3 separate regions of the Homo sapiens genome follow, and regions 1 and 2 are each linked to region 3. The links come from fine-mapping of genetic effects on gene expression. A gene starts in region 3. Each other region holds a variant in brackets. All regions are shown on one strand. Distances are between the middles of the regions.

What was found. PIP is the estimated chance that this variant, and not a neighbour inherited with it, causes the effect. A credible set is the group of variants that fine-mapping cannot tell apart.
Region 1: its variant is the best candidate, but not a certain one, in a credible set for the expression of HS1BP3 in aorta (GTEx, PIP 0.81).
Region 2: its variant is the best candidate, but not a certain one, in a credible set for the expression of HS1BP3 in whole blood (TOPMed, PIP 0.71).

Annotation. Positions count from the first base shown.
Region 1 is chr2:20,621,509-20,631,734 of GRCh38, forward strand. It overlaps HS1BP3 (HCLS1 binding protein 3), which reads right to left. Exons shown (of 7, transcript NM_022460.4): 5 at 3,224-3,384; 6 at 2,388-2,523. Among named protein-coding and RNA genes, the nearest start is that of HS1BP3, 24 kb to the right of the region's middle. The variant C/A (reference allele first, on the strand shown) is at 5,398.
Region 2 is chr2:20,699,718-20,709,943 of GRCh38, forward strand. LDAH (lipid droplet associated hydrolase) reads right to left here. Exons shown (of 7, transcript NM_021925.4): 6 at 1,853-1,935. Among named protein-coding and RNA genes, the nearest start is that of GDF7, 38 kb to the left of the region's middle. The variant T/C (reference allele first, on the strand shown) is at 5,568.
Region 3 is chr2:20,646,937-20,657,162 of GRCh38, forward strand. HS1BP3 (HCLS1 binding protein 3) reads right to left here and starts at 4,162. Exons shown (of 7, transcript NM_022460.4): 1 at 4,096-4,162. The coding sequence starts at 4,127. It overlaps LOC105373466 (a long non-coding RNA gene), which reads left to right and starts at 4,346. Exons shown (of 2, transcript XR_001739320.2): 1 at 4,346-4,416; 2 at 5,039-5,264. RefSeq lists enhancers at 3,509-3,588, 3,609-3,758, 3,843-4,580 and a silencer at 3,839-4,428.

The DNA.
Region 1 (10,226 bases), 25 kb before region 3:
CAGGTCAGATGTTCCGGAGCTCCCTCCAAGTGGCAGCCCTTCCTTGACTCCCCCAGGGCAGGTGCCAGCTCCACTGGCATGATGCAGCCTCCATTGAAGGCTGAGGGTACCTGGGAAAAGCTCAAAGGGACTGAATTATCCTCAAATAGGGGCCCTTTGGAAAATAAAGCAGCCGCTAGAGGCTTATGTCAGATTTCAGGATTAGCCTGCTTGGCAAAGCAGTGACTCTTTGGAACTAATCAGCAGCTGGATTTGCTCCCAGGTGGGTGGTGTACACGGGTGGTCAGCCACGGTGGGAGGCAGCATAGCTGCTCTTGGGACACAGGAGGCTGCAAGGCACCCCTTTTCCAAGCACCCTATTTCTGAGTCATGACTAGGACTAGCTCTCACTAGCGCAAGGTCCAGCTCTTTTCTCCTCCAGGCCCAGCTGGTGTGAGGTCAACCAGTGGGGGGTAAGGGAGCTCTAAGACCCTGGCCCCATTCCTTCTCCCTGGGTTCCTGCGGAAGACAAGACTCACCTAAACATCTAGACTAGAGGCCCTGCCCTGGTGTGGCTGCACAGCCAGAAGGAACAAAGCCTTCTTAGCCTCGACCCGCTCAGTGTACACCCCACGCGGCCTCAGGGTGGCTGAGGCTAGTGACAGAATGAACGAAGGGGTGAAAGCATGAATGAATGAATGGCTATCAGAACATTCTTTATTATGAGGAAGTCCAACTACTCCCTGGATAGTCACAGGGCAGACACAAAGAATGAATGTGGTTCCTGCTCTCAAGAAGCTAATCCCAGTGTTACGGCTCTTTTTGAATTTGTCTGAATTTAAAAAAAAGAAAAGCAGTTAATCCTTTCATTAGCAGATGTCTGCTAAAGTGAAGGTGGGGGTGCGGGACCCACACTTTTTGAGCAGGGACTCCCCAAGCGCTCTGCGGGATGCTAAGGGGCACCACAGAGTGGGGGGCCCAGGGATGAATGAGAACGTGAAGTGCCATGTGGTGCTGGCCCGCGCACTACGAGCCCTGCTTTTTGTGGCATTTCCCCAATTCATCAGCCACAGAGCCCCTTTGAAGATAGCCTTTGACCACCCCACTGTACCACGTTCTGCAGAACACAGGTTGGGAAGTAACGGATTTAGAATAAACTAGGCCAGAAAGGTCCCACGAGAGCCACCCCACTGGGACACATGGACTCCTAGACATGCTCGGCCTGGCCCTGCTGCTCCGCAGGCAGACTCTAGTATTTCATTTCCCTGTGCCTCGGTTTCCCTCTAATAAAATAACAATCCTGGTTTCTTCCAGCCCGCTGGGATGTCAGGAGCGAGGACACAGGATGAGAGTGAACAGATGCCAGGGGCCTTGGGGACATGTAAATACCAGAAGCCGTCACGGTGACTCAGGCTTGGCGGGCACTTGCAGGGCTGTCTAATAGCCCGAGGCTGCTAATGAGGGGTACAGATGACAGCCTCCAGGGCCTGCATGCCTTGGTGTCACATAAGCCGTTCCTGGAAAGAGGCGGCCTGGCTTCCTCTGAATCCCAGGCACAGTCCTGTGTCCTGGAGCATGGAGTGGGAGCTGGAGACACGCACAACACTGAGTCTGCTGAGAATGTGGCCAGTGGAGGTAAAGGCCTGGGGAGAACTGGGGGGCTGGGTGGGGAGGCAGATCACCCAGCCAAGTGCTCAGACAGTCCCTGATGAAGTGGAGAGGCCAGGCCAGGGGCAGAGCAGGGGTCTTAGCCAGGTGGCGTCCCACACTTGATTTCTTATAATATGGAGAAAATAGCATCCACCTTAGGGGGCTGTCGTGAAGATTACATAAGAGAGCGTGTAAGGAGTCTGGCTTACTGCGTACACAGCAAGGACTCAGGAAATAGGAGCTGTCACCGGCACAGGTTCTGCCAATTGACCTCCATGTGACAGCTGAGGCCTCATTCTCCCTTCCTTCTGTGAAAGCTGCCGACCGGGCCCTCCGGCAGAGAGGCCATCACCAAGACATCTGCACTTTGCCCCCTCGCTGGGTGGGCTGCATGCTGCCATGAGTCCGTTTAATTTGTTCCCAAACTTGCTTATGCCAGTTATACCTGCTCTTGCAATTATATAATTTAATTATTCTTTACATAAACTGTTAAAATATGATTGTGAAAAGAAAGACTGGTTGTGCACACAAAGTTCTCTCTTTCTGGAACTAGCTGAGCAGCCCTGGGCTGCGGATCCTCCCCCTCAGCCCCCTTCACCGCCTCTCACCCAATGTGCACCCACAGGCTTCTACTTTTCACAGGCCTGGGGTCCTCCCCTCAGAGGAGGCTGGGGCTGAGACTGGGCAATGAGCCGGGCCCTTGGCTCTGTCCAGAACACTCTCAGAGCTGGCCAAGCGCCGCTGGGGACAGGTGGTACCTGAACAGTTCCTTGGAGGCGTCCCTGTGGCTGAGGCTGGGTGTGGGCCCTCCACTCTCACAGGCGGCTGGCAGCAGGAGGGAGTCACCCAGGGGGATGGCCCCGCCGAGGTCAGGATCATCAAATAGCTTCAGGGCTGTGGGAAGGCAGCAGCAGGGGGGTCAGAGGAAGCCTCTAGGCTGGGATGCCATGGCTGCTCTCTCTCTGCCCCACCCCAGGAAGTCTTCTGGGCAGTCCTACAGGAATTGATGCCTCTGCTCAACCTGTCATAACTGGTGCTGCTTTGTAACTGTCAGGCAATGACCTGTCTCCCCAGGGGCCCCCGGGGCCCTCGGGATAGGGACTAGGGACAGGGACTAGGTCTCACTCCTCAGCATGTTCTTGGGCCTGGCCCTCAGTGAGGGCTCACCAAGTATGGGCTGAATTAGTGGGTGGCATCAATTCCCCTCACCGGAGGACGACCTGGGCATGTGAGGAAAGGGACCAAGGGATGAGTGGAGATGTCCCAAGGCCGCTCGGTTTTCCCTCTGCCAACTCTGCACAGAGCCCTCCAGCAGAGTCCATGCAGGCGACACAGAGTCCCATTAAATCCAAACCTACAGTCACACATGTGCCCTAGGCAGGCCCTATCGCTTACCACACAAACAGTGCCTGGAAGCCCAGGGCCCACATCTGCCCACAGATGTCATGGAAGCACAAAGCTGAGTCTATATCACATCTAAACAGGACAGGGGAGATATATGGGTCCTATTCACGCCGGGTGAGTCCAGACCCTGCCTGGTGATGGGGCTGGGCACCGAGAGGACACCAGGAGCAGACCATGGGGCTCTACTTACGGTCCACGGATGACACGTCCTCCGAGGGGTCCTGTGGAGACAGCTTCCTGCCCGGGCCAAAGAGCCCCTCATCAGGGTCCACCTCCTCGTCAAAGATGGTGAGCCGGGGCGAGGGCTTGGCTTTCACGGCCACTTTGGGATGTTTCTTGGGCTTCTTGGAGCTGGAGAATCACAGACAAAGCACAAGGTGAGGATTTCCCACAAGTGTCCAGGTGGTCCGGTCAGACCGACACAGGCGCTGGGCCCTGCAGTGGAGGGGCTGGATGCCATGGGCCAGAAAAGACCAGGCCAGAGGGACCAGGGAAGTCCTGGAGGGGGCCACCCAGAGCAGTCCAGGCAGGTGGAGCTGAAGTCTTTCTGAAATCTCTAACAGATGGTCACACGGCCAAGGGAAGGACAGGTCCTCCATCCCAGGGGAGAAAAGCAGGCCAGCGAAGGTGGTTGAGAAGCAGGTTTCCCCAATGACAGAGTGGTAAGGCCCCCGCTACTGTGGGCAGCTGTGCCCTGTGTTCAAGAAATGACCACTGTCAGGAGGAGCAGGCGGCTGCCAGGACCGGGCACCAGCTGCCAGACAACCCCAGCTCTTAGACGCCTTCAGGCCTTGAGTCTGCCATGCGGTCACAGGCCAGAGATCACACTCCCATTCGGAAGGTAGAGACAGCTGCCTGGTCTCAGGGTCTCAGCACTTGGGGGCCAGGCTCAGAGAACCACACTCCACAGCCACTCAGAAATGGGGATGGACCTGGTCTTGAGCCACAAACCTCAGGGCTAGGACTCAGGAGGGCAGAAAGCAGCTTTGGTAAGTGCCTTATTGTTTCCTTTGCATGGTAAAACCACCATTGTTCTAGTTAACACTTGGGTTCTGTGGAGCAGCCCCCCTCTTTCAGGAAGCCTCTCTGGGACTTGCCCACCTCCCCGGCTCCGACTCTGCCACCCCAGGTCCCATTACAGTGCACTTGCCGACTGGCTGAGGAGGTCCTGCTCTGGGCCAGACCCTGCTGTAAGAAACCAGGACGGGGCAGGATGGAAGCTTCTGGGGTGTAGGAGTACTTTAGTTTTGATCCAGGCGGTAGTTACGGGCTGGATAAGTAAACACGCATGGAGCTGAATGCTCAGGATCTGTGTACGTCACTGTAAGTGATACCGCCAGTAAGTAAACACACTTGATTTTACTTTAATAATTACTTTAACAGGCATTCAATCCCTGCTGATGATGTCTATTAGCCATTTTAAGGTTCCTGAAAATAATGAGAATATGCTCTTTACTGGAAACTGAAATTCCGTGTGCCTGTCCGCCTGGCGGGCAGTTCCACTGGACTGAGGTCACTATGTGAGGTCACCATCTGAGCTCATGTTGGTAACACGCTGCGGCAAAACTGCACCGAGAGGCTGGCCTACACAATGATACAGATTAACCAATGGCAGATAAAAATAGCAGAATGGCCCTGGGTGCTGGAGGGGCAGGTCCCCGCAAGGTGACCATTCCCACAGTCTGGAGTCTGAGGTCTGGCAGAATCCCAGGCACCCAGCCGAGGCGAGGAGAAACTATGAAAGCCAGGAAGGCTCCCTGCTGGAAGGTTCCCTGCTGGAAGGCTGCAGGACAGAGCATCCTCTGAGCTCAGAGCCCAGTCCCAGGGGAAGGATCTCTGCAGGGCTCGTTTGTTGGATGAGGAAACAGTGGTCCAGAGAAGCTGAGTGTCTGCCCAAGGCCACACAGCAGGGAAGGGACAGGCAGGCTGGGTCTAGATTGAGGATGGTCATACTCATGGTCCTATCCTCTTGTCCCCTCCAAATGTCCCATGAGGAAGGTGATATAGGATGGCGCAGGGATAACAGGATTGATCCTGCTGTTCTCTGGGGAGAAAGTGGCATGTTTCAAGGGTAGTGATGGGGAGCAGAGACGCAGTGGCAGGGACTGCTCCAAGAAGGCCCATCTGCCTGGTCCTGTGCTTTCTCCACCCAGCTCAGGCCATGAGGGACCTCCTCTGCTGTGCACCACCCTCAGGCCCTGCTTGTGGTGCTGGAGGTGAGGTGGAGGGAGCCTCGATTCTCCACCCTAAGGGCAAGTGCTTTCCAGAAATCTTCAGCTTCTGCTCCTCTGAGACCTGGAGGAGCCAGGGCTCGCCTGCTCTTACTCAGACATTCTCCCCTTTATTCTTACCAATCAGGCAGAG[C/A]CAGCTCGGCTCTCATGACTCCTAGGAAGTGGGTACCAAACAAGGGCCATGGCCTCCTGGGGCAGACAGCAAAGCTGACCCCAGCCAAGACCCACTGAGTCGGAAACCCCAAGCAGGCCCAGGAGGCTGTGTTCAGTCTCCTGTGGAATTCCACGGTCAGCCAGGCTCGCAGCCACTGTTCTGCCCGATGCTTCTCTCCCCTTCATTCCCCATCTCTGCCGCCCTTTGCGTGGCCCTTGCTCCTGGCCCCAGCAGGCACTGCGGTGGGGAAGGGTGGAGAGCCACCCCGGCCCCTACCCAGGTGGCAGCTCTCAGGGAGGGCAGGTCTGAGGCTGCTCTGCAGCCTCCCCCAGCAGCAGCTCCATGCCACACCCCACACTGTCTGCTCAGAAACAAGCAGGCCCTCCCTGGCTCCTGGGGATTGAACTTGCATGTAACCAGCCACGGGCCCCTCGGGGCAGGGGAGCAAGAGGCTTTGCATTGACCAGAAATCAGAGGGCGCAGAGAGGGAAGCGAGCCATCTGAGGAACAAGGGAAGCGAGAGAGAACAGGCGCGAGGAGGTCTCTCTGGAGAAGCCGTGGTGCCCCTTCCTACGCCTGCACCTGGTCTGGACAGCACACAAGAGGCCTAACTTTCCTTCCATGTGAGTTTTCTCCTCCAACTGGATCATGTCCTTGTTTTTCTCCCTAGAGACATGTTTGCCCTTTTGTTGTCCTGAACTGAAATAAAGTGGATCTACAGCACACGCGGGCGGCTCCAGCAGGCATGGTCTGTACCCTACCCCCACCCACCCATGCTGCCTGGGCTGCCTTCTCTACCTCCCCAACTCTCTAGACCCATCTTCAGGGGAATCAAGGAAGAAGCAGGAAATATGGAGTTTTGGTGCCTAAAAGCCCCAGGGTCCTATCCTGAGCGGCCCAAAACTTTCAGCCTCTGGGGGCTTAGTAATGTGCCTGGTCCATAACAGATGCCTTGATAAACTCTGGATGAGAGGATGCGCGATGGATGGAGGGGAGGAGGGATGGACAGGTGGAGGACAGGTAGGCAGGGAGCAGGGTGCCAGCACATCTCCATCTCAGGATTCTGTTAATCCCCAAGGCGGGAGGGGCAGGGAGGGAAGAGGGATAGGCTCCCAACCCCAGTCTCAGACAGCGCCCTATGTGCGAAAGCCCCTCCTCCGAAGATCTCCTGGCCGACTCCACTGGGCTTGCCACCAGGCCCTCAGCCACTCTATGAGCAACTCATTCCTTCCCTCGTGGGCACCTTTGATGGCGAGCACTCACTGAGAACCTCCCACCTGCAAGAACCTGTGCTGGGGACGAGGGAACAAAGATGAGGACGAGCCGCCGCTGTCCCCAGAAGCTCATGGCAGAGCAGGGTCACATAGAAACTGATCATTATGGCCGAGTGAGGTGGCTTATGCCTGTAATCCCAGCACTTTCGGAGGCTGAGGTGGGTGAATTTAAGAATAAAATATGAAAAGTGCTTTAGTTTAAAGCAAAAAGTTTACGGGAGGCCAGGAGTTTGAGACCAGCCTGGCAAAGATGATGAAATCCCATCTCTACTAAAAATACAAAAATTAGCGTAGCATGGTGGTGCATGCCTGTAATCCCAGCTACTCGGGAGGCTGAGGCATAAGAATCGCTTGAACCCCAGGGATGTAGGTTGCAGTGAGCTCACATCACACCACTGCACTCCAGCCTGGGTGACAAAGTGAGACTTTGTCTCAAAAAAAAAAAAAGGAAACTGTTCATTAGCACACAGGGTGTTCCGCTCTGTCACGGCAGAGCACAGAGGACAGAGCCAACCAAGCCTGAGGGCTCAGGGAGGACTTCTTGGAGGAGGTGATGTGGAGACAGGAAGTGAACTTGGTGGAATGGAGTTAAATAGCATCTTGGGTACAGGACCTGAGAGTCACACTGTGAGGGTCTGCAGCGGGCGTGACTAGGACATAACTGGGAACCCAGATTCCTCTTGGTGAAAGGGGACCCCTTAGGTTTGCAGCAGACGTAGTGCCATGAGGGAACAGGCTGAGAGTCAGTTCTTTCCAGGGAAGCTTTGCTCATGGTCCATAGAAGAAATGACCAGAGCCTGGACTAGGAGAGCAGCGGTGGTGCGAGGGGAAGACAGGCTAGGGGGAACTTCAGAAGGCAAACGTGCTTATACATCTGGACAGTTAAGGTGATCGGCTGACAGAAGGGAATTGTCTAAGGTGATGACAGGTTTCTGATCTCAGTGAGGGGGTCAGTAATTCCATGACAGGTGCGTCACTCAGTCTCTGAGCCATTTCTTCACCCTTCTCCTAGCACAAACACCTCAGGGTTGTCATGAACATGGAGTCGGGTCAGGTCGCACACATGGGCTATCACTCGGGGGCCCCCTCAATCCTCTCCTCCCTGGTCCTCCTCCTCCTCCATTCCTATATCAGCATCCACCCAGCTGTCTGCAGGCGCAGGGCCTGGCTCTGCAGTGCCCGCCCTCCAGCCCGCCCTCTGCACTGACAGGAGACAAAGCCCCTCACTGACATGGAGGAAGGGTGCCCTCTTCTCCCTTCATTGGAAGGACAGCTGGTCATGATTAGAATCTTGTCACCAGGGATGGGGCAAAAGGGGCTTCAAAGAGAGGTCTGCAGGGAATAGGACTGGAACTGCAGCTCCTGGCTTCCTGGTGAGCACAGGGTTCATTGGAACTAGTGCAGGCCATGAGGGCCACCAAAACATGAGTTGGGCCCACAGAGGTTGCATGAGGTAGGTGGGGTGCTCCTGGATGGATTGCAGGCATGTGCTGGCATGTTCTTGTTGCATGCACATGTGTGCATGGACAGACACCCGCTTTCCTGCTGTGTATTCCTGACGGCAGACAGACGCGCAGACCAGGCCATGTTCTGCAGGCGGGCGTGCAGCATACGGGGTGAGAGGCGGCAGCTGCCGCGGCTGACAGCTCCAATGCTCAGACAGGCTGAGCAGCAGCCTGGCTCCCTGTGGCTCAGGCAGTTCTGGTGACAGTGATTGACACATAAGAGCATCCACCACTCTGGCCACCCAGGGGGCCTGTGGCACCATTCCCAGATGTGCCCACCCACACAGCAGACCACCAATGGGCACCAGCTGCTCAGCACCGGGTGTACATGCATGGCAGAGGCATCTCCTAGACACAGCCAGCTTAACTGGGTCTGAACAGAAGACTGCTGATCTTTCCACAACTGAGACACATGGACAGCATGAGTCTTCAAAGCCAGGGTGCAGCTTAACCAAATACGGAAATCCACCTCCTTGCCAATGATGCAAACTGCGTGCTTTAAACTAATGCACTTTTCATACTTTATTCTTAAATTCAGCTGTTTGGTGTCTTTTTGTTTTTTGGGTTTTTGTTTGTTTTTTTGAGACAGGGTCTCTGTCACCTAGGCTGGGGTGCAGTGGCATGATCACAGCTCACTGCAGCCTCGACCTCCTGGGCTCAAGTGATCCTCTCACCTCAGCCACCCTAGTAATTGGGACACAGGCACACACCATAACACGTGGCTAATTAAAAAATAATTTTTTTGTCGAGATGGAGTCTCGCTATGTTGCCCAGGCTGATCTCAAGCTCCTGGGCTCAAGTGGTCTTCCCGCCTTGACCTCTCAAAGTCCTGGGATTATAGGCAAGAGCCACTGTGCCTGGCTGGTTTTATTTTTTCAATGAGAAAATTCTCAGAGTACCAATAAATGGACTTCTGAAATTCACACCAGGACAATGTTATTTGCAACAGCAATGGGCTTCCTTGGAGAAGCAATCACAAGAGTGAGAATCACCTGAGGACAGGCACTAACCCTGGGAGTCCAAGCCAGCCTCACTGGACAGGGGCTTCAGAGAAGGCCAGGATGGAAAAACGAGCAGAGTCACAAAAGCTGTGCTCCGGGCAGAGAGAAGAGCCCATGAAAATGCCAAGGTGTGCAGAGCCTGGCATAGTGAAAGTGCCCAATAGCTGGGCAGCAGGTGCATGGAGGGAGGGTCTGTGGGAATTGTTGGCCACCTCCAGTGGGGCCTGGGGAGATTCTGGCCTTTGCTGAGAGAGGAGCAGCAGAGGGGGATGTAGGAGAACTTGTATAGGATCTGGACCAGTCACTCAACTTCCCCAACCATGTTTCCTTACTGGAGGTCAAAGGGAAGAAGGAGGCAAATGACACAGAAATGCTTCGCAAGCTGCCAAGTGGGTCCTGGATGCAAGTCAGCGCAGGGCCGTGGCAGAGGTCTGGGGTCCTGGGAGCTGCCTGGTGATGTCTAGGCTCACTTATGCTTTCTACTCAGCAGACTTCACTCTGGGCCTTAAAAAGCAAATGGGGCCAGGCCAGGCACAGTGGCTCATGCCTGTAATCCCAGCACTTTGGGAAGCCGAGGCAGGAGGATCACTTGAGTCCAGGAGTTCAAGACCACCCTGGGCAACATAGTGAAACCTCATCTCTACAAAAAGTAGACAAAAGTAGCCAGGCATGGTAGTGCATGCCTGTAGTTCCAGCTATTTGAGAGGCTGAGGTGGGAGGATCAGTTAAGTCTGGGAGGTTGAAGCTGTAGTTAGCTGAGATCACACACCACTATACTCCAGCCTAGGTAAAAGAGTAAGAACCTGTCTCAAAAAAAAAAAAAAAAAAAAAAAAAAAAAAAAAAAAAGGGGCCAGCCAGGGAGGTCACCATGAACGTTTATCATTTGCTATGGTCCCCAGAGTCACATTCCAAGGACCTGTTTCTCAACAGCCAGAGCCCACTCTCCTGGCCACTGAGCCCTATCTTGAGGGGCCAGGACTCAGTGACAATCCCACCTGAGCTTGTGGGTGATGCCATTTTTCCTTCT
Region 2 (10,226 bases), 53 kb after region 3:
TGTGTTAATACTAACCTTGAAATGTCTACCATTTACCATTACACCCCCGTATTTCCCCATAAAATTTCAGTAAACTTACAGTCCTGACATAATTACCATGAACAGCCCTCTATCTGGGAATGATTACACTTGCATATGGATTTCACTTGGGACAGGAATAAGTTAGCACCTTTCTTTGACCTTTTTCTGAGCACAACACACAAGCTGAATCCAGAAATGATGAGTATTTTACAGCAGCTGGCTTCCACAGGTGGTAAAGCAGACTCTGACACATGATGGGTCTAGTTGTTCAGCAAGTGTGAATTTTGGAAGTGAGCATCTGCCAGTCTTATTATTAACTGAGAGTTGAGCTGTTTTTATGAACTCCCAACCTGGAAGAACTTAAATGCATTTTTGAAACAGATTCACTTACAGTTTAAATGGAAAATAAAATACTGTTTTTCTTGTATTTTCACATCGCTCAGTGACTGGAAGTAGCTGAAAGCCCTGGAGAGGGGGCCCTCCTGAGGCCCCAGCACTCTCCCTTCGGCTAGTGAGGGCTTCCTTCTGGTTTCCAAATTTCAATCTCTAGCCAACTGCTATTTCAGAAATATGATGACCACTATGGCCATGAGACAAAACAACACTGGCATTTTCAAAAGTCCTCTCTGGGTGAATATTTTCAATATTCTAAAAAAAAAATTTTAAGAACATATACACTTCTCGTTTTAAGATAATTGTACTGGGAGGTTATGGAATTAAGAATTAACAATGTAGAAAAGTTTAAGTCAAATGTATCAAGGTTTATAAAGACATTCTAAGTCCAGTGGGTTATCTCGTATTTCACTTGTGGATTGCTCCTGAGTCCTATGAGAGTTTGCCACTCAGCAGGGATCATTTCAGCAGGTATCATAGTTCAGCACCAATTGTAAAGTTTAAGACTAATGCTGTCCAACAGAAGCATAAAGCAAGGTACATATGCAATTTTAGAATTTCCTAGTTACAATGTTTAAAAAATTATAAAGGAATGGGTGAAATTACTTTTAATAATATGTTTTACTTAATCCACTATATCTAAGGTAGTATTTCAACAGGTAATCAATATAAAAATTAATGAAATACTTTGCTTCTGGGGGAACTAAACTTTTGAAATCCAATGTGTGTTTTACACTTATGGCACAACTCAATTAAGGCTAGCCACAAATAACCACATGTGGCTAGTGGCTATAATATTAGTACAGTTCTGTCCTACTCAGAACGGACAGCCAGACAAATGATGCCACAGGAGTACCACAGTCATCCAAATTCTAGGGTGACCTTAGACATATACTAAACCCTACTCTTATAGTTTCAGAGATTGGTGCTTCCAGATGTGTGTGTGCAAGATTCTAGTATTTGCAGCATAACTCCCAAATGTTGAATATTTCACAAAACTGGTCTTAGGGTCAGAGCAGGACATTCCTACTCTAACACATTAGAGAATAAGAAAGGCTCACTAGTCATGAGATCATATAACATATAATGTATTTTCCACTGTTTCATTTATATTCCAACATTATTTATTCTATAAATATTATGGAGTTTTCTCAGTAGAAGGCCTAGAGAGGCTAAAATGCATTGACAAAATAGAAAAGTATTGATTCTAAAATTAATTCAACAAAAACAGGTGATAAAAAAATAAGTTATTATGCAATTAGCTTTACTACTCTCTACACAACTTTCAGGGATAATTTCAATTTTAACTGGAAGTAGAACTCTATGTCATTCTACCAACCCTTAAAGTCTTACAGATTCTAACTAGTTCTAGTCCTTTGCCCTCGTATCTCTGCCCATCTACTTATTATCTATCCCCTTGCAGCACTAAAGTGATTACCTTACATAAATGCTCCTTTATGGTTTCGTCATCTCTCTTCACCACCTCCATCATTTCTTGGCCCCCAAGGTAGGCAGCATTAGCTACATTTAAAAAATAAAAAGTCAAACATTTAGAATATATAGAACAAACACAAATTTCAAATTAATTTTAGTAAATTCATGTTCCTCCTTTCTTTTGGCACGTGCTATCTGATGAGAGATACTGGTGAGGCCAACAGAGGAATGTGAGTCAGGCAACATGCACACAGTCTCTGGAAACAAGAGCATTTCATTTAAAAGAACCTTCTTCCAACCTCATCTGGCTTCTCCATAGCAAAAGTTTAACAGTGCCACAGCCCAATGTCAGATACCACAGCAGATGATGTGTGCAATTTTACCAGACCAATATGTGCTATTTCGATTTAAGGCTTAGAAGTACAAATTGTTACCAATAAATCATGTATACCAAGAAAATGCAAACAGTTACTAACATGAAAATATACTGGCTTTTTTTTTTTTAAAGGAAACAACTAAAAGGATTATTTATCTTTAAAAATACGTTTAAAGTTCTCCAGGAGTTTTCAATAGGGTTAGTCCCATTACACTGGCTGCAAAATAAGCAAAGTGATGCTCACTTTCAAGATGTCAAATACCTAGGAAAGAGGAAGAACGCCAGAGATAACATGAGTTTATGTGGCTTTCTTGTACTGGTAAGAAAATTTTCATTCAATGCTTTGTACCCTGAATTCCATTTTGGCTGGTATTATTATTCTTATCTTGCTTTCTTTTTTGCCAGCATCTGTCCTTCCCTTCATTTTCAATCTTTTGTCATTTTGTTTCAAGTATGTCTCTTGAAATCATGTAAGTGGACTTCTTTAAAAATGCAGTTTGAAAGTCTCTGTTTCTTAAATAGAAGGACTAAACATATTCACATATATTGAGATCAAAGCTATTTGGTCTGACGCCAGTCATCTTGCTTTATATACCCTACGCTTTCTTGTTATTTCTGCCTCTTATCTTTAGTGTGAATGATGAATTTTCCTCCCCACCCAGGATTTAACAAATTTCTTTTCATTAACAATCTGAAAGTATAAATTCCATTTTTATTTATCTAGTGGTTAGCCTTACCTAAAAACTGCAAACTTACTTTTTATTTTCTCTTGCTGTCTGGAATTACTCATCTAAACAAGGCATGACCTTAGCATACTTGCACTTTCCCCATGCCTTCCTCCCATCCTGCCTCCATCCCTGTTGCTTCAACCATCTGGAATTTTAGTTCCAGATTATTATTATTTTTTGAGATGGAGTTTCGCTCTTTGTTGCCCGGGCTGGAGGGCAATGGCACGATCGTGGCTCACGGCCACCTCCCAGGTTCAAGCAATTCTCCTGCCTCAGCCTCCAGAGTAGCTGGGATTACAGGCATGCGCCACCACACTCCGCTAATTTTGTATTTTTAGTAGAGACAGGGTTTCACCATGTTGGTCAGGCTGGTCTTGAACTCCTGACCTCAGAAGATCCGCCTGCCTTGGCCTCTCAAAGTGCTGGGATTACAGGCATGAGCCACCGCACCCAGCTCCCAGATTATTAATTTTTACATTTTGCCTCTGCTTTCCTTGTTTAAAGTTTTATCAAGGTAACACACATACACATATATAGTTTCATATCAAATATCACAGAAATGGTTGTAGTGCCAAACCATAGTTTTCTTTTCCATCATTTCCCATTTCTAGACCCGTTTCCTAGAGGAAGCCTCTCTGAACTCTTTTAGCTGTCCTTCCACCAGTTATCTTCAAACCTCTAAACACTTACGATCATCTTGTCATTTCTTGATAACTTATTGATTACCCTTGCTGAGTTGCTATGAAAGATGAGGATTTAGCTCCCTTTTACAGCCCTACCATTCCTTCCTGCCATCTTCTCAACATGTTTATATCTTATTTTGAATTATTCTATTCTTACTTAAATAATATACTTACACCTTTACTTCTGAATATTGTTCACTGCTGAGCCAAGTGGTATCTAGAACCACACTTCCACTCTTACACTTCCATTCTCTGTCCTCCAACATTTGTTTTCGTTACAGTTACCTTTTTTTCCCTCTTAACTCTACTCAATATTTTTCTGAGTCAATTCTTCCTGGAGACCTCCTTTCCAGGACCCTGAGACCTTCTGCTCTAACCTGGACCACTGTCGACTTAGAATTTCCCTTCACTGCCTTCTTGGGTTGTTCCTATTGTTTTCTAAGTCCCAGTTAATTAACTCATTCATTTGTTTATTCATTCAAAGATGACTGAGCACCTACTTACTTTATGCCAGGCCTTATTTTAGGCGCTGGAGATGGAGCAACAAACAAGACAGAAACACTATTCTTGAGCTTATATTTTAGTGTTGGGATGATAGATGGTGAGAAAGTGCTATGGAGAAAAATAAAATCAGCTTAGGAGATAAGTCTGTGCAGTGACAGAGGTGGCCTATTTTATGTAAAATTCACTGAAAAGACCTCCCTGATAAGGGGATGTGTGAACAGAGAAGAACTTGAATGAAATGAGAAAATGGACCATGCAGATACTTGGGTTAGCAGCACTCTAGACAGAGAATAGGGTAGGAGATGCTCCCTTAAATATAGCCATGATATAATCCTAAAAAGTAGCACTTTAATCATTCTTGTCTGTCTGTGATATTAGCATGAGTACATATAGGAGTAAATATTCTGCATTTTCTTGGCCTAATCTCCTAAATCAGAACAGGATATTTAGTCGCAGTTATATACTAAGAAGCTGGACTATAAGACTCTAAGTCCCGGTTCCAAAATCAGAACTGTCTTTGTTTTACTATATTTCAGGGAATTTATAAGGACCAACTAAATTAAAGCAACAGAGATTTGATTAATACATTATGGTCTATTCACTAAATTAATTATTCTATAACCTATTAAAAATTATCCTGCAGAATATATAATGTCAAATACATATTTAAAAATAATAGTAACTGACAAAAAACAAACCATGAAATAGTACAGTATGATCCCACTATTGTAAAGATACATTATGTGTATGGTACAGATTTATTTGAAAAGATAAACAATAAAATAATAACACGTTATCTCTGGTTGATGGAATCCCAGGTGATCTGCCTGTCCTTTCTTCTCCTCTCACTTCCCTGCCTCCCTTTCAAATAGGTTATAGTTTCTTTCTTTGTACATCATTTTGTCTTTCCTAGAATTATTTGTTGCCTTTACTTGATTTTCTTTTCTCATGAGTAGACAATGAAAATTCTTTCTTCAAAAATGCATCAGATTTTATTCCCAAATGTACAAACACATCCAATAATTCATTTATTCTGTCCCTCCCCCCACAGAGCCTTCCATTCTTTTGATCCAATCTTGGACGGGTTGCTCTCCAGGCCTGCTGCATAGCTGTCATCCTTGGACTTCCCTTTGCCACTTCTCTGGACTGGATTCCCTGTTTTATGGATTCTGTTCATGACTTTCTCATTCTTGGTTTATTCCCTTACTTTACTGAAGCACATTTTCCAGTAACTAATAAAAAGATACACAGGAATTTTTATAGATGTTTACATGTCTAATTTTTGTTTCTTTTCCCACATGAATCACATAGTTTGGCTGTATATAGAATTTTAAGCTGAAAGGGGCTTACCCTCAAGTTTATTATCTTCCAGCATCCAAGGTTTATGATTTCAATTTTAGTTTCTTGGAATGTGACTACTTCCCTTTG[T/C]CCTGCCCCTATCCCATCTCCTTATCCTCAAACTCAGCTGTCTTAGCTCTAGAATCCTGAAGTTTCATAGGAATATGCCCTAATACAAGTCTTCTATTCCTTAATTAGACTGGAAATCCAGTGGGCCCATTCACTGTTTGGACTTACCAACTTTCTTTCTGGAAAATTTTCTTTTATTATTTCTTTGGTAATTTCTTCCCCTGTTTTCTCCATCCCCTCTTTCTGGAACTCCTACTAGTAGGGTATTGGCTCTCTTAGACTAATCCTCTGTCATTTTTCTTCTATAGCCTTTCTCTTTTTCAATTTGTATTATTTTCTAAGAGACTAGTTAGAATACTATTATATTGTCTAGTGGGGGAGAGAATGAGACTTAAAGTGCTTATAGTATGAAAAAGAATAAATGATCAAAGACATAATTTTTCCTACTATAAACATGTGCTCTGTATATAAAATGCAGAAATTATATGAGTAGAAGAAATGATTAGCAAGAACTTAGTGAAAAATAATCAATATTACTATTTTGATGACTTCATTTAAATCTTTAAAATTTTATTGTTAAGTCTTAGTTTTCACATAGTTATACCGCATATGAAATTTAAAATTTTGCCTCTGAGCACATTCTAGAGTAGTGCTATGCAATATAACTTTCTGTGATGGTGGAAATGTTCCCTGTGCTATCCAACCAATACAAAGGCCCTTGGCTAGATGTGCCTCTTGAACACCTGAAATGTGGCCAGGGCAATAAGGAACTGAAATTTCAATTTTATTTAATTCATTTACATTTAAATAGCCACATATGGCTAATGTCTACCTTACTGAGCAGTGAAGTTCTTTCTAGAGCTACAAATAAGGCCGACCTTACAGAGCTAAGAAATGGATTAGATATTAGGAGAAGGTGAAGGAATGAAAAATGAATATTAGTGGGGGCTTAGGAGAAAAAAAAGTTTGGGGAACACCATGAGGAAAAGACAGATTTTATTGAAAGAGAAATTCTCATTTTCTTTATAACTCCCATTAGCCTTCTCTACAAAATCTGATCCCAACCTATGTTGAAGCTTGGCTTCATTTAAAGACTCATGCTTTCCAGTGAATGTGAGCTACTTATCCTCTAAACACATAAAATTTGCATCCTCAGCCATTTTGTTCATGGCATTCTGTCTACTTGAAGTCTTCCCACCCATCCTTTGTCTTGGCTTAGATGCTCTGTCTTTTCGCTACCTTGCTCTAACACTCCAATCTGTTAATAAAGACTGCTGAATTATCGATATAGAAGCCAAACCTGTTTAAACTGTTATTGGTTCCCAAAAATCTCAACTGAATTTTAATTTCAAATGGAAATGATTTTCCATAGTTCTACTTCTGAACAAGATGGAGTAAGAGGGACTGGATTTACCCTCCTACCTAAAATCCTGAAACAACTAAAAAAAAAAAAAAAGATAAAATACATGAAGAAAAAAGTTTTCAAGACACTGGATATTGGGCAACAAAAAGACAGCAATCCCTGAGAAAAGAGAAACGAATGAGAGGAGTCTTATGATTGTCTCAGCTTATCATTTGAAAAGTTTTCAGGCTACAGTGCAAGAAGGAGAAGTACAAGCAGAGCTTGGTAATCTCCCTCAGTTGATAAGTGCATTAATTGTTTTTTATTGTCTTCATTTTATGATGCTTTGACATCTTGGAGGCCTTGCTTGTCGGGGAGAGGCTGCCCCTCCCATGACTAGCTAAATTCTTAGAGATAGCAAATGATTCCACGGTGAACATTTCTTTCATATTGAGCAAACAACCAATCCAAAGGCCATACCCACCAACCACCTCCCTTAGAAAACTCTCACACAACAAGCCAAATACTCTAAATCACTCTAAATCCTGCTGGGAATTATTTCAGGGCTGGACACAAGACATCTAGGAACTACTCCTATAGCTCAAAGCCCACCAAAATTTTTCATACCAGCCAATCCTAACTAAACCTGCTCAGCTGCCTAAACTGCCTCATCCCTTCCTTCCCATGGGGACCACAATGAAGGCTCTGGGCCATGCTCTCCTGTGCTCCTTCTGCCTCCTTCCCCAACTGGGTGCTTCCCCATGAGGCCCTGCCTAGTGTGCAATGCCCCCTCCTTTCAAGAATTCTAAGTAGCTCTTCTTTCAAAGGCAGTTGTCTCCATGCTTGCCATGTTAACACACCTGATTAAAACAATGCATTTGTAATCAAGGAGATAGAGGTGATAGTTTGGGGAGGCTACCGCAGTGGTTTTTGGTAGGGCAGAGTTGTAGAAGGAGAAAGCTGTAGTGAGTGAGAGAACGCTCCAGAGATCTGCAGAGGGGACCCCCTGAATTTCAGCTAGGTGCAGATCAGCACAATTGTATGAGAAATTTTGAGAAGCTGGGTGAAGGAATCATCTGAAAGAATTAGAGGGAATAATCCCTGAATTGAGAATAGTCACTGTTTCTACCAGTCCACCAGAGAACGTCACAACCAACAATGCATCCACTAGAGCAGCACCAGTACTGTGTCACACGGCAGGAGGTGAGCAGCAGGCAAGCAAGTGAAGCTTTATCTGTATTTACAGGCATTCCCCATTGCTTGCATTACTGCCTAAGCTCCACCGCCTGTCAGATCACTGGCAGCATTAGATTCTCAGAGGAGTGCAAACCATATTGTGAACTGAGCATGCAAGGGATCTAGGTTGCGTGCTCCTTATGATAATCTAATGCCTGATCATCTGTCACTGTCCCCCATCACCCTCAGATGGGATTGTCTAGCTGCAGGAAAAGAAGCTCAGGGCTCCCTCCCACTTTTCTACATTATGGTGAGTTGTATAATTATTTCATTATATATTAACATTTAATAATAATGGAAATAAAGTACACAATAAATGTAATGTGCTTGAATCATCCCCAAACCATTCCCCCAGCCTGGTCCAGGGAAAAAGTGTCTTCCACAAAACCGGTCCCTGGTTCCAAAAAGGTTGGGGACTGGTAACTAGAGAACTCAGAGAGGTTTTTGCCTTGGTGGTGGAGTAAAATTAGCCCTAAACCAAATGCCATTCTGGTACCAACTAACAGCCTAGAAGCAAGACCAGAAAGTATCAAACCGTCTCCAAATAACAAAACTGTGTCCCATAACACAGCTCAATAATATTTATAGAAGTACAAAAATATCCAGCATCTGACAAGGTAAAATTCAGAATGTAAGCTATCCAATAAAAAATTATCATGCATGCAATGCAAGAAAATACAACCCAAATGAGGAGAAAAACTGATCAGTCAAAACTGATGCAGAAATGACAAAGATAATAAAATTAATAAACATTCAACAACTGGAACTTGGACAAGTGGATATACATGTGCAAAAGAAGGAAGCTGGATCACTACCTCACATGACATAGGAAATAAATTCAGAATGGATCATAGCCCTAAATGTAACAACTAAAACTATAAAACTCTCAGTAGGAAAGAGAAATACATCTTTGTGACCTTAGATTACAGAATGGTTTGTAACTATGACATCAAAAGCACAAGTGACAAAAATAAATAAATAAATTGGACTTCATCAAAACTAACACTTTTATGCTTTAAAGGACACCATCAAGAAAGTAAAAAGACAATCTAAAGAATGGGAAAAGATCATATGTCTGATAAAGATCTCTAGCCATAATATATAAAGAACTCTTACAAATCAATAATAAAGACAATCTGATTGAAAATGGGCAAAGGATTGCAACAGACATTTCTAAATATCTTCTTAAGAAGATGTACAGGTTGAGTATCCCTAATGTAAAAACATAAAATCTGAAATCTTCCAAAATTCAGCTTTTTGAGTGCCAACATGATGCTACAAGTGGAAAATTTCACACATGACTATATGTAATGGGTTGCAGTCAAAACTTTCTTCATGCACAAAATTAAAAATATTGTGCAGTTACCTTCAGGCTATGTGTATGAGGTGTATATAAAATATAAGTAAATTTTGTGTTTAGACTTGGGTCCCATTCCCAAAATATCTCATTATGTATATGCAAATATTTCCAAATCCAAAAAAAATCCCATATCCTAAACACTTCTCATCTCAAGCATTTCAGATAAGGGATATTCAATCTGTACAAATGGCCAATAAGCATGTGAAAAGATGTTCAACATCATTAGTCATCAAGGAAATATAATCAAAACCACAATGAGATACTACTTCACTAGGATGGCTATAATAAAAAAAGACAAACAATAACCAGTGTTGACAAGATGTGGAGAAACTGTAACCCTCATGTCTTGTTGTTAGAATTATAAACTGGTACAGGAACTTTGGAAAACTGTTTGGCAGTTCCCTAAAATATTAAATACAGAGTTACCATATTACCCAGCAATTCCACCTATAGACAAGAGAATTAGAAACATAAGTCCACAAAAAACTTGTACATGAGTGTTTACAGCAATATTATTCATAATAGTCAAAGAGTGCAAACAATCTGAATGTCCACCAATTGATGAATGGAAAGACAAAACATGGTAAAGTCATGCAACGAAATATTATTCATCAATAAAAAGTAATGAAGCACTGGCACATGCTAAACCATGAAAAAACCCTGAAAACATTATGCTAAGTGAAAGAAGCAAGTCACACTCCAAGATATCAGACTTTGTGGGACAGGGCCAAAGCAGTAGTTA
Region 3 (10,226 bases):
ACCCGGCATGAGGTGGAGCTGCGTTCAATCCCAGGCAGCTGCTCCAGAGCCCAGGTGGCCTCTTATGGGGCAGGCATGAGAAAGAAGCCAGGCATCATTTCTTTAGGATCATGATGAAAACGAGGCACAGGGGGGTGAAAGTGACAAGAAGGGCAGTGCCTGAGCTGCGGGGAGGTCCTCTCAGGGGTGGGAAAGGGATGGAGCAGACCCAGATGGGCACCTCCCACGATCCAGCTCCCTCACAGCACCCCACATCCAATGGTTCTCTGACCACGCCAGAACCCACAATCCATAACCCCACCCCTTTTCCAGGGTCCCATTCCATTGCTGGAATCCCTCTGCCTTAGGCCCAGCTCCCCTGACTTCTTACCCAGAGCTGAGCTGGCCTGGTCAAAGCCCACTTCTCCAGTTCTCTGCTTCCTTCACCCTGTGCCCAAGTGGCTCAACGTGACTGGGGACAGACATGGTGTAAACATGCAGCCTGGTCCCATTGAAATTCATGGCTGCAGACTTGAAGGCACAGCACCACACCAGGCTTGGCAACCCTACCTTGCCCTAGATGTGGGGTTCTCAAAGTGTGGTCCCTGGATCAGGATCAGCATCGCCTGGGAACTTGTAAGAAAGGCATGTTCGGGCCTAGGGTGGCCAGCCATCTTGTTTTCTTAGTAAGCCCTCCGACGAGTCTGATGCACCTGGGCCTACTCCATCACCCTCCCACTTCCCTGAACCCATAGGAAAACTTTCTCTACAGGGTCAGATAGCAAATATTTCAGGCTGTGTAGGGTATCTGGTCTCTGCTGCAGCTGCTACGGAGAGTACATAAACAAATGGGGGTGTGGTGGGCAGGATGTGCCCTAGACCAAGCTTCTCCAACTGTAATGTGCGTGCAACCCCCTGGGGATCCTGTTAATATGCAGATTCTGGTTCTGCAGGCCCCGGGGTGTGCCCTCACCATCTCTAGCAAATTCCCAAGTGATGTGGACACTGCTGTGTACTGCTCCAGAGACCATCGGAGAACATCCTAGGCTTCGCTGTCACATCTGCCCATCAGCCTGCAGCTGCTCCCTGATAGCTGCCCTCTCCTGGGACTGTAGACAAACTGGCTGGCTGCTCCTAAGGCCAACCTTCTACCAGGGCAGCGGCTCCGAGGCCCTCCCACCTACTGAAGGACATAGCTGCTGCAGCTCACCCCTCTTTTTCGCACCATCGATTTTCCTTCCTTACTGGCCCACGCTTATTAGCATGCAACCATGCTCTGACCACTCATGTAACAAAAGCTGTGCTTTGACCCGACATTCCCCTTGCTCCGTTTCCCTCCTGCCCTTTCCAGCAGAACTCCTCAACAGAGGGCCCCATATTCATGGGTTCCTCTCCTCCTGTTTGATCTTGAACCCTTTCCAGCCAGACTTTGGTCCTCATCATGCAACAAACTGCCCACGCCCAGGTCATCTGCGACCTCCATGTGGTTAAATCCAAAGGTGAATCCTCATTTCTCCTCTGGTCTGACTTGTCAGCAGCAGTGGGCACAGTCAGCCACTCCCCTCCTTCAAGCTCTGCCTTCACTGGTGGCTGGAGCACCCCCTCACTCTTGGTTCTTCTCTGCCCACCCTGGCCACTCTTGCTCAAACAGGAGGAGAGGAACTGCTTTGGATGGTTCCCCTTGATAGCATCCAGAGCACCCTCCTTCTTCCTCTCACTGTACCCCTCCCCAGGTGATCTCATCCAGGCTCCAGGCTTTAAATACCATTTCCGAGCCAATGGCTCCCCAACTCCCATCTTTAGCTCACTCTCCCCTCACAGCCAGCCTCCTTCCAGCTGCAGCTGCCTGACATCCCCACTGGGCTGTCAACGAGCTTCTCAAAACTCACCTGTCTACACAAATGCTGCTTCTACCTCTCCCCAAGCCTGCTAAAGGGCAGCCTCATTCTTCCAGCAGCTTAGGCTGAGAGACTTGCCGTTAGTCTTAACTTCTCTTCTTGTTCTCACACCCCATATCCAAGCATCAGCAAACCTGAAAGCTCAATCTTCAAAATATATCGAGAACCCAAACATTTCTCACCCTCACGGCCGCCATCACCCCGGGCCAAGCCACCACCGGCTCTACATGGAAACCTACAAGCCTGTCCTGAATGCTCAGCTCGGCCACTGCCCATGCTCAGCATAGCAGCCAAAGGATCTCTATAAACCAGAAGTTGGGCCCTATTGCACTTGAAATTAAATCTGATGGCCCCTCCACAGCCTTCTCGGCCTTTCCTGATCATCCTTCACTCCCAAGCTTGCCTCTTCACCGCATCACCTAACACTCTCCCTGGGCTCACTCCACTCCAGCATACCAGCCTCGGGACCCTGGCTCCTGCTGTCCTGTCCTCCCAGTACACACTTTTCCAAGATTTCTTTTTCATGGCTCTCTCCCTCATGGAGCTTGTCCGGGATCTGTCCAGGCGCCACTCCATCAGAAAGATGCCTCTTTACCACACCATAGAAAACAGCATGCATGCCTCCTACCACTCTGTTGCCCCCACTGTTTTGTTTTCCTTCATAGCATGTATCATCCCTGACATGTCGTAGATTTGCCCACTGGGCCTGTGCCCTCATTAAAGCTCTACGAGAGGGACTTGTTTGTCTCCTAGAACTAGGGCCAGTACCCGGTACAGAGAAGGCTCTCGATAAACACCTTCTGGCTGAATTCAAGCTTGAGTGCATGTGGCAATGACATGTGGGAGGAGATCGGGCTGGAAAGAGGAGCTGGGGTGCGACTGGGAAGGGCCGGCCTTGCTGCTGGGCTAAGGCGTTTGGACTCACCCTGCAGGCAAGATCCTTGGGTGTGCTGGTGCCCTCAGCAAGAAATGAGCCTGACTCATGTGGCCTTACCACCGCCAGCGCCCCCACATCTGTTAACAAGCCACGTCCAGGCTGTGCAGCGGGGCAGGGAGGGAAGCCACCCACCCCATCCCAAGCACCCAGCACCAAAGTCACACCCCATCCATCTGCACATGGCTGAGGGGCATATACTACTGACGTTGCTCATGCCTGCCAATCTGAAACCTCCAATTCACAGAAAAGGAAACTGAGGCTTGGTGAGAGGAGGTGACGTAAGTGGCAGTAGGGAAACCTCTTCTGCCCATGAAGATACAACTGTAACCACACTTGATCATGAAAGACCAAGCAGCCTCCGACATCAGGGTTTACAAAAGGAATCATACCTTTCTAGACCTGAAGTCACGGGGAATTCCTGATTACAACTGGAAGATCAACAGTTGGCTGGGTAACACGTTCATTTATGTCATAAATTGGCATCTTAGCCTAAGACTTTGTGTAGGGAGAGCAAGGGTGAAGTGTATGAAAATATTTGAAGTAAATCACTTTACAGCGTTTTAAAGGCGGAAAGAAGTAAAAGCACGTGCCTCCCAGCCTTGCCAGGATCCACCTTGGGCTGGGTCCTCCAGGTCTCGATCAGGGCCGACCCATTCTGCATCCTCCGCCTGGACCCCTCCAAGGCTTTTGCTGTAACTTGCGCTCTCCTGAGCTGCCTCGCAAGCAGCAACGACCTCTCCCTGGTCTCTCATCAAACTCATCCTCCCAGAAACCGGGTTCCTGCCCTGTACTGTGTTCCCATGGCAACCTGAGCTTACTACCCGCTGCTGGCATCACCCCCTCTCCGCTGCAGCCCCCTGCAGGGCGAGCTTGTCTGATTCGCCTCTGTCCCCAGTGCCCAGCACCGGGCCTGGGACTCAGGGAGCTCTGAAAGGATGGGGAACTAGATTTTCGGGCTCAAAAGAGAAGAACCCAAGGCGGTAGGAAAGGAGAGCAGAGTCCCCACTGCGCCCGCCTGCACTGAACCAGTCAGTCCCAGGGCTCCCGCTGTCCTTGGCTAGTTCTCTACCCTCCAGAGGGCCTCGGTTTCCTCATCTGTAAATCGGGGTCGCCACCTCTCCTGCAGGGCGGTGCAGGGGCCCAGCCCGGATAAGCCACCGAGGGCGCTGGGGAGACCTGCACCAGGTCCCTGGCCTAGGAGGCGGCGGCCTCCCCCCGCCTCTCCGCCCGGGCGCCCCGGACTGCGAGCTGTGCGGTGTGGGGCGCGGGGGTCTGGCTCACCTGGAGGTGACGAGCACCGCCGGGGACTGCATGACGGCGGCGGGGACTCCGGGCGGGGCGCGCAGTCACGGGACCCGGCAGTGCCCGCGTCACCGCGTCCCCGCCCTGCCTCCCGCTGCCCTGGCCTGCCCCCTGGTGGCAGCGGCCGCGCAGTTCGCGCCTGTGGCCAGAGGCGGGGCGGAAGCGCGGCTGGGCGGGTCCCGCACGGTCGCCGTCGGCCTGCGCTGCTCGGAGCTTCCGGAGCACCCAGGCTGAGCCGCGCCCGCCGCAACCACCTAGAAGAAGCCCAGCCTGGCCCTGGCACACGGTGAACCTTAATCGGTGTGTCTGTTTTGCGCTAAAGTTTAGCCGTTAGAGAGACGGGACTCTGCTGTTTCCGCCGCCAGTCCCCATTACAAAACCACTCCCCCTCTGCCCCAAGACCATTTCATTCAACCGATCGGTCAACAAATATTTACCAAGCTGGGGCTCTGTCCAGGCTTCGTGGGGTCTTCTTCAAGCTGCACAGTGAACGCCACGCAGCAGCCCAGTCCCCTTGAGCTTGCTGCCTCCAGCTAGCTCGCCTATCTGGTTCCTACTGCCTGCCCGCTCCATAAATGGCAGGCACTCTCCCGACAGGGGATCTTTAGAGAGGCAGCCTCTGCTGCTTGGCAGAGCCCTGGTGGAGGCCTCCCGGGGCCGGGCCTGCCTGGGATGGCTGCACTTGGGTCCCCAGCTGGAGCAGGGCAACGGGGTCCAGGAGCCAGTTCCCCTCAGAAGGGGAACGTACAGACATGCAGACCCTAACAGACCCACTCATTTTAGATTCACCTCTCCATGGGGTGAGGAACAGAGAGATCGTATCACCTGCCAACGTAGCCCAGGGAAAGAAAAGCTGAGTCTGCAAACAGGGCCAGCAGAAGGTGCAAACTGCTGCCCCTGTTCTGTTACTCCCTCCACCCAGAGCCCCAGTGACAAAAAGAAAGAGAAGCTGGGCTTAACTATACCAGAATTCACGGCAGGGCGATGTCAGCCATGTTTCCTGAGCCTATCAACCACCGCCACCAGCATCACCAACAATATCTACCAGTTTTTACAGATTTTAGTGAAGAAATCCTACAGTAAAAGATTTTGAAAAATGACTTTCCCCAATGTATCTCTTGAATAAATACGGACATTGATATGCCTTATTATTTGTCTCAGATTTGTTTATAGGCAAGATGAGCAATCATGAATGAAGTATGACAATGAATGAAAGTTCTGAGGGAGACCCTTGAAGGCTGCAGTGAAGAGCTGGGATGATGGCGGGAACCCCTGTCTGCTCTGCTGCTCATCGGCCTGTCCGTCTGCAGGGCCGTGTTCATGGCTGCAAATGGTCCTCCGTGTTTTGTTTAAATTGGCATGCCCTACTTTAGAGAAAGGGAGTTCAGGGTCTGGACAGAAAGCAGTATAGGCTTCAGCATTCCAGGAGTCTGAGTGTAGTGCCAGGCAGTCGAGCAGTCACCATTGCACTCACATTTATCCAACAGACAGAAACACAGTGAATAAGACACTTTAGATGCCTTCAGTGGACTTCTTTGCCCTCCTACATGGGGAGTGGGTGGGGGTCTGGAAAGGCTTTCTAAAGGAGCTGAAGTCCAAGGGAAAACCTGAAGAAATATGGATAGAATAGATTAGAAGGAATGTCACGTGCAAAGCCCTAGCGACAGGATAGGAACACCAGGGAACAGGGGGAAGAGGCCAGCAGGAGCCAGGGTGTGGACAGCCTAGTGCACCAAGGCCAGGGCTTTGCCTGATCCTGAGGCCAACACAGCGCCATCAGAGGGTCAGGGACATAGGAGTGGCTGGGCCAGCTAGGGCGTGGGCAGGGTTTTGGAGCATGTTGAAGGTATGAAGATGAGCTGGACTGCAGAACAATCCAGACAAGAGACAATGGTCCCATGAACTAGGGTGATGGCCACCCAGGTGGAGAAGAGGGGACGGGTAAGAGGGCCTTAGGAGAAGGAGTTGGTCAAGACTTGGGAATCCAATGGGTGTGGGCGGGAAGAGATAAGATACCACTATGGTTTGGCTCTTGTGAGTGGCTGGACATTGGTATCATTCTCTGTGGCAGGGCACCTGGAGAAGGAGCATATTTTTGGTAGGATGATGGGTTCTGTTTCAGACAGGCAGTGTTTGAAGGGCTGGACCTATTGATGCGATTGGGTTTATGGCCCTGGGCCTCAGGAAGCCGACCTGGGCTGGAGACTGACATAGGAGTCATGGGTAAAAAGGAGGCTGTTGAGCCTGAGAGTTGGGGTGAGCCCACCAAGGATGGTCTACAATCCAGAGATATGCAGCGGTGTTGGGGGGCTGCAGAGAAGGGGACTCTCCATCATTGTGGGAGCTGGTAGCATGTCTGTCACCAATGCCTTGTAAGCAAATGAGAGGGCCTCACCTGTGCCCCTGGGGTTGTGAAGTGTGCACCTCAGGAAGACTCGGCCCACCTGTCAAGAATGCAACTGGTTTCCCATGAAAGAACGACCCCATTCCCAACAGCAATCCCATTTTCTGCCTCTGTGGGTCCCACGTGCCCCTCTATGGCTCCAGCGCGTAATTGTATACAATGCATGGAATGTGGGATCTAAATCTGATATTTTCTGCTTCCTGTTTAATTCAAGGAGCCCCTTCCATGGCTGAAGCTGCGGTAACACAAACCACATTGCAAAGGATTTTCTATTTCTCTCTTTCTCACTGCCCTGGGAGGAACACTCCAGGCCTCAGTTTCCACCCAGGAAGTCACTGGGCCTCAGGACACTGTGGTCACTGAGAGACACCCGCAGCCTGCAGGGGGTGCTCTGAACTCTGGCTGAGCCATGCACCAACGTTTCCCATGGTGGCTCGGGTCTTCTGGGACCTTATAATTTGTCTCTGTTCCCTAATGTGATACTTTAGAGCTCCAGGGTCTGGGCACATCCACATGGAGCAGGGCCACCACCTTGCTTGTCACTCAGCAAACACTCATAGGTACAGCTCCAGGCCTGTTATCTCCCCAGGCCTGGGGGCTACAGAGCCTTATCCTGTGGGGCTCACAGCCCACTGCAGGGGCTCACAGGCCACTCTAGGACAGCTGGAGATTTCAACAAGGATGCACGCCTAGGGTGCTATGGTGCACAGAGGAGGGCACATAACTAACTCAGCCTAGGGTTGGGCATACAAAGAATTCTGCCAGGAGGAGGTGATGGCAGACCTGGGTTGTAAAAAGTAGGTATTATTTTTTTGAGACTTGATTTTCTCACTGGTGAAATGCACGTAACAGAAACCTTTAAATCATAACATTGCTTGAATTACATGAGGTAAAATGAGACTGAAACAAGATGAAATGTATGGCAGGCATTGGTGATGAGCTAACCGGAAGCCATTCACAACCCCCTTCTTCCTGGTTTTTATTACCATAGAGGCTGGAGAAGTAAAACACATGTCCCATTTCAGTTACAAGGGGCCATGTGACATAACTGACCACATATACTTAAGTCCCTGTGGAGGATTTATCTTGCTAGGAGAAAACTCTTCGCTCCTTCCTTGTCTTCTACCTGGGAAGGGGATACAGTGTTGGAGACACAGCAGCCATCATGGGAGCAGGAGGCACAGACATGAGTTTGGAGTCTACCATGTTAGGGATGAACAAGCCTGGGGAGCTGATGGCATATGAGCTTGCATACACGCCCTGGACTTTTTCTACAAAGTTCTCCTTGCATAAATGCCTAAATCACTCTAAGTGGGGGTTTTCTGCAGTGGATTTCCTGTTGGTGTAGTTGTAAAGTACTTACATAATGCCTGACATAAAAACTGCTCCATAGGGGATGCAGGGATGACTGAGGAGGAGGAAGAAAAGAGGTAAAATGTGTACTAGGAAGGCAGCTTGTCTTTTTTTTTTTTTTTTTTTTTTTTTGAGACAGGGTCTCATTCTGTCGCAGTGGCATGATCACAGCTCACTGTAGCCTCAACCTCCTTGGGCTTAGGTGATCCTCCCACCTCAGCCTCCCAAGTAGCTGGGATCACAGGTGTGTGCCACCATGCCCAGCTAATTTTTGTGTTTTTTGTAGAGACAGGGTTTCCCTATGTTGCCCAGACTGGCCTTGAACTCCTGGGCTCGAGCAATCTGCCCTGCTGAGCCTCCCAAAGTGCTAGGATTACAGGTGTGAGCCACCATGCTCAGCCTAGTACGTCTTGATAGAACCAGAGCGTATCTGAGGAGCTGGTGAGAAGAATATGTGGAAGGATTGCTGGGAGAGGAGGCAGCAGAGGGCAAGAGGAGCCTGTGTTCCCGCAGCATAGAGGGCCTTGTGCGCTATGCAAAGGAGCTCACATCTTATCCTGAAGAAGGAGGGAGTGGGCTCACAGAACAAAGGGAAAAGAGTGTTTCAGGAAGAGACTGGGGTGTGATCAGCAATGCCAAACACTGCTGAACATCCAGGAAGATAAGGAGGTGTTCAAGAAAAACAAACAAAAAAACCCCACAGAACTGAACAGTAGTTAAAGTGGTGAAAGCAGATTTTATTTGGGACTACTGCAATAGGGGTAAGAGACCCCAGTATAGAACTAGGCTAAATTCCGAATGCAGCATGAGAAAGTAGGAATTTATAGCCAAGGAACAGGGTGGGAGTGGTGGCTGGAACATTACTAAGACGAGTATGGGGGGACTCTGGCTATGCCGACCTAACAGGATTCTTGCTGAAGATGGGCCAGGATGGTCAGACATCACCTGGGGATGGTGGAGGAGGGGGAACCCAGTTGGATATCGAGGGTGATCAGATAGGCAGGGTGGGAGGATGTTGGTAACCTGACTTAGCCACGTTCTTCCTAAAACTGGATTTTACAAGGAAGTGCATGCATAGGTCTAAGAGAAGGTTCAGGAGCTCAAAGCTCAGTTTGGTCAAGAAGAGAATCTTTGAAGAGAGAAAAGTGTTCTCTGGCCTCGAGGAGGGCAGTGTCCCAGTGGGTGGAGGAGGGGACAGGAGGTGGGAAGGGGAGAAGGGAGTAGGGCCCCCTCTTCCAGAGGGGGACAAGCAGACAATTTTTGGAACCATTCTGTAGAAATAATTCATGCTCATGGTAGAAAAGCTGGAAAATAGGGATAGTAAAATTAAAAAATAAAAATCGCCTCTCATTCTATACCAGATATAACAATTGTACTAATTTTTTGTTCCTTCTCTCCTGACATTTTTTTCTATGCCTATACATAAGTCTTTTTTTTTAAATAATACAGAATCTTAATAGCTATACTATTTTGTAACTTGCTTTTTCATTTACCATCCTGTAAACATCTTTCCATGTAAAATGACCTCCAAAACCATAATTTTAAATGGCTCCTTAGAATACCATATGCAGATGGAGAATAACTGACTTCTCTGGTCCTTAAGCTGTGTACATGTGATGGAAAGCTGGTGCACTGGAGGAGTACTGAGCGGGGTGGATGATCTTTGAAGTGCTGGCTGGTGTTTAGGCCAGATCCCTAGGAAGAAGGCTTGGGAGAAAAGTGCCAACTTGTTTGGGAAACTTGTTTCTTGAGTCTTTCAGTGTGCATTGCTATTGTTGAACAGCAGAGGAGATTGGAAGATTGGGAGAAATGAGACAGTGCTTCATCGCTTTGCATTGTAAAGGAATTTGGGAGGCATTGTCTGCCTGCGGCTCCTGAGCTCTGGGTGGTGGTCTGGCTTGTGGAGGGGGCGTGGGGCCCAGCCGCCTGGAGGAGGCCCAGGGCAGGCCAGCTAAGGCTGCAGACCTTGGTGGGTGGCATTTAGTGGCTCCACTGAGTCCTGCTCTGCTCTGTCCAAGACGCCCCACCTCAAACCTTCAGGGCCTACTATGCACCCTCGTCTCAGGGAAATGGCGTCTAGTACTCAGTGCACCACAGTCCTGGAAGTGGCTAGTCAACAGGAGTCAGGAAGCTTGGACTGACTGTGGAAGCGAGGCTCTAGGGATCCTCAGGAATCTTTGCCTGAGGCACAGCAAATCCAGCTATTTTGTTTGGATATTGTAGAAAGTCCCAGAACTTGGAAGCACAGAGACATGATGCATTAGATGGGTTTACATCTGCACTCTACTAAACTGTGCTCAGGAAAGCTGAATGAGGCACGTCTTCCCCAAACCTCGCCAGCCCCGATTCATTT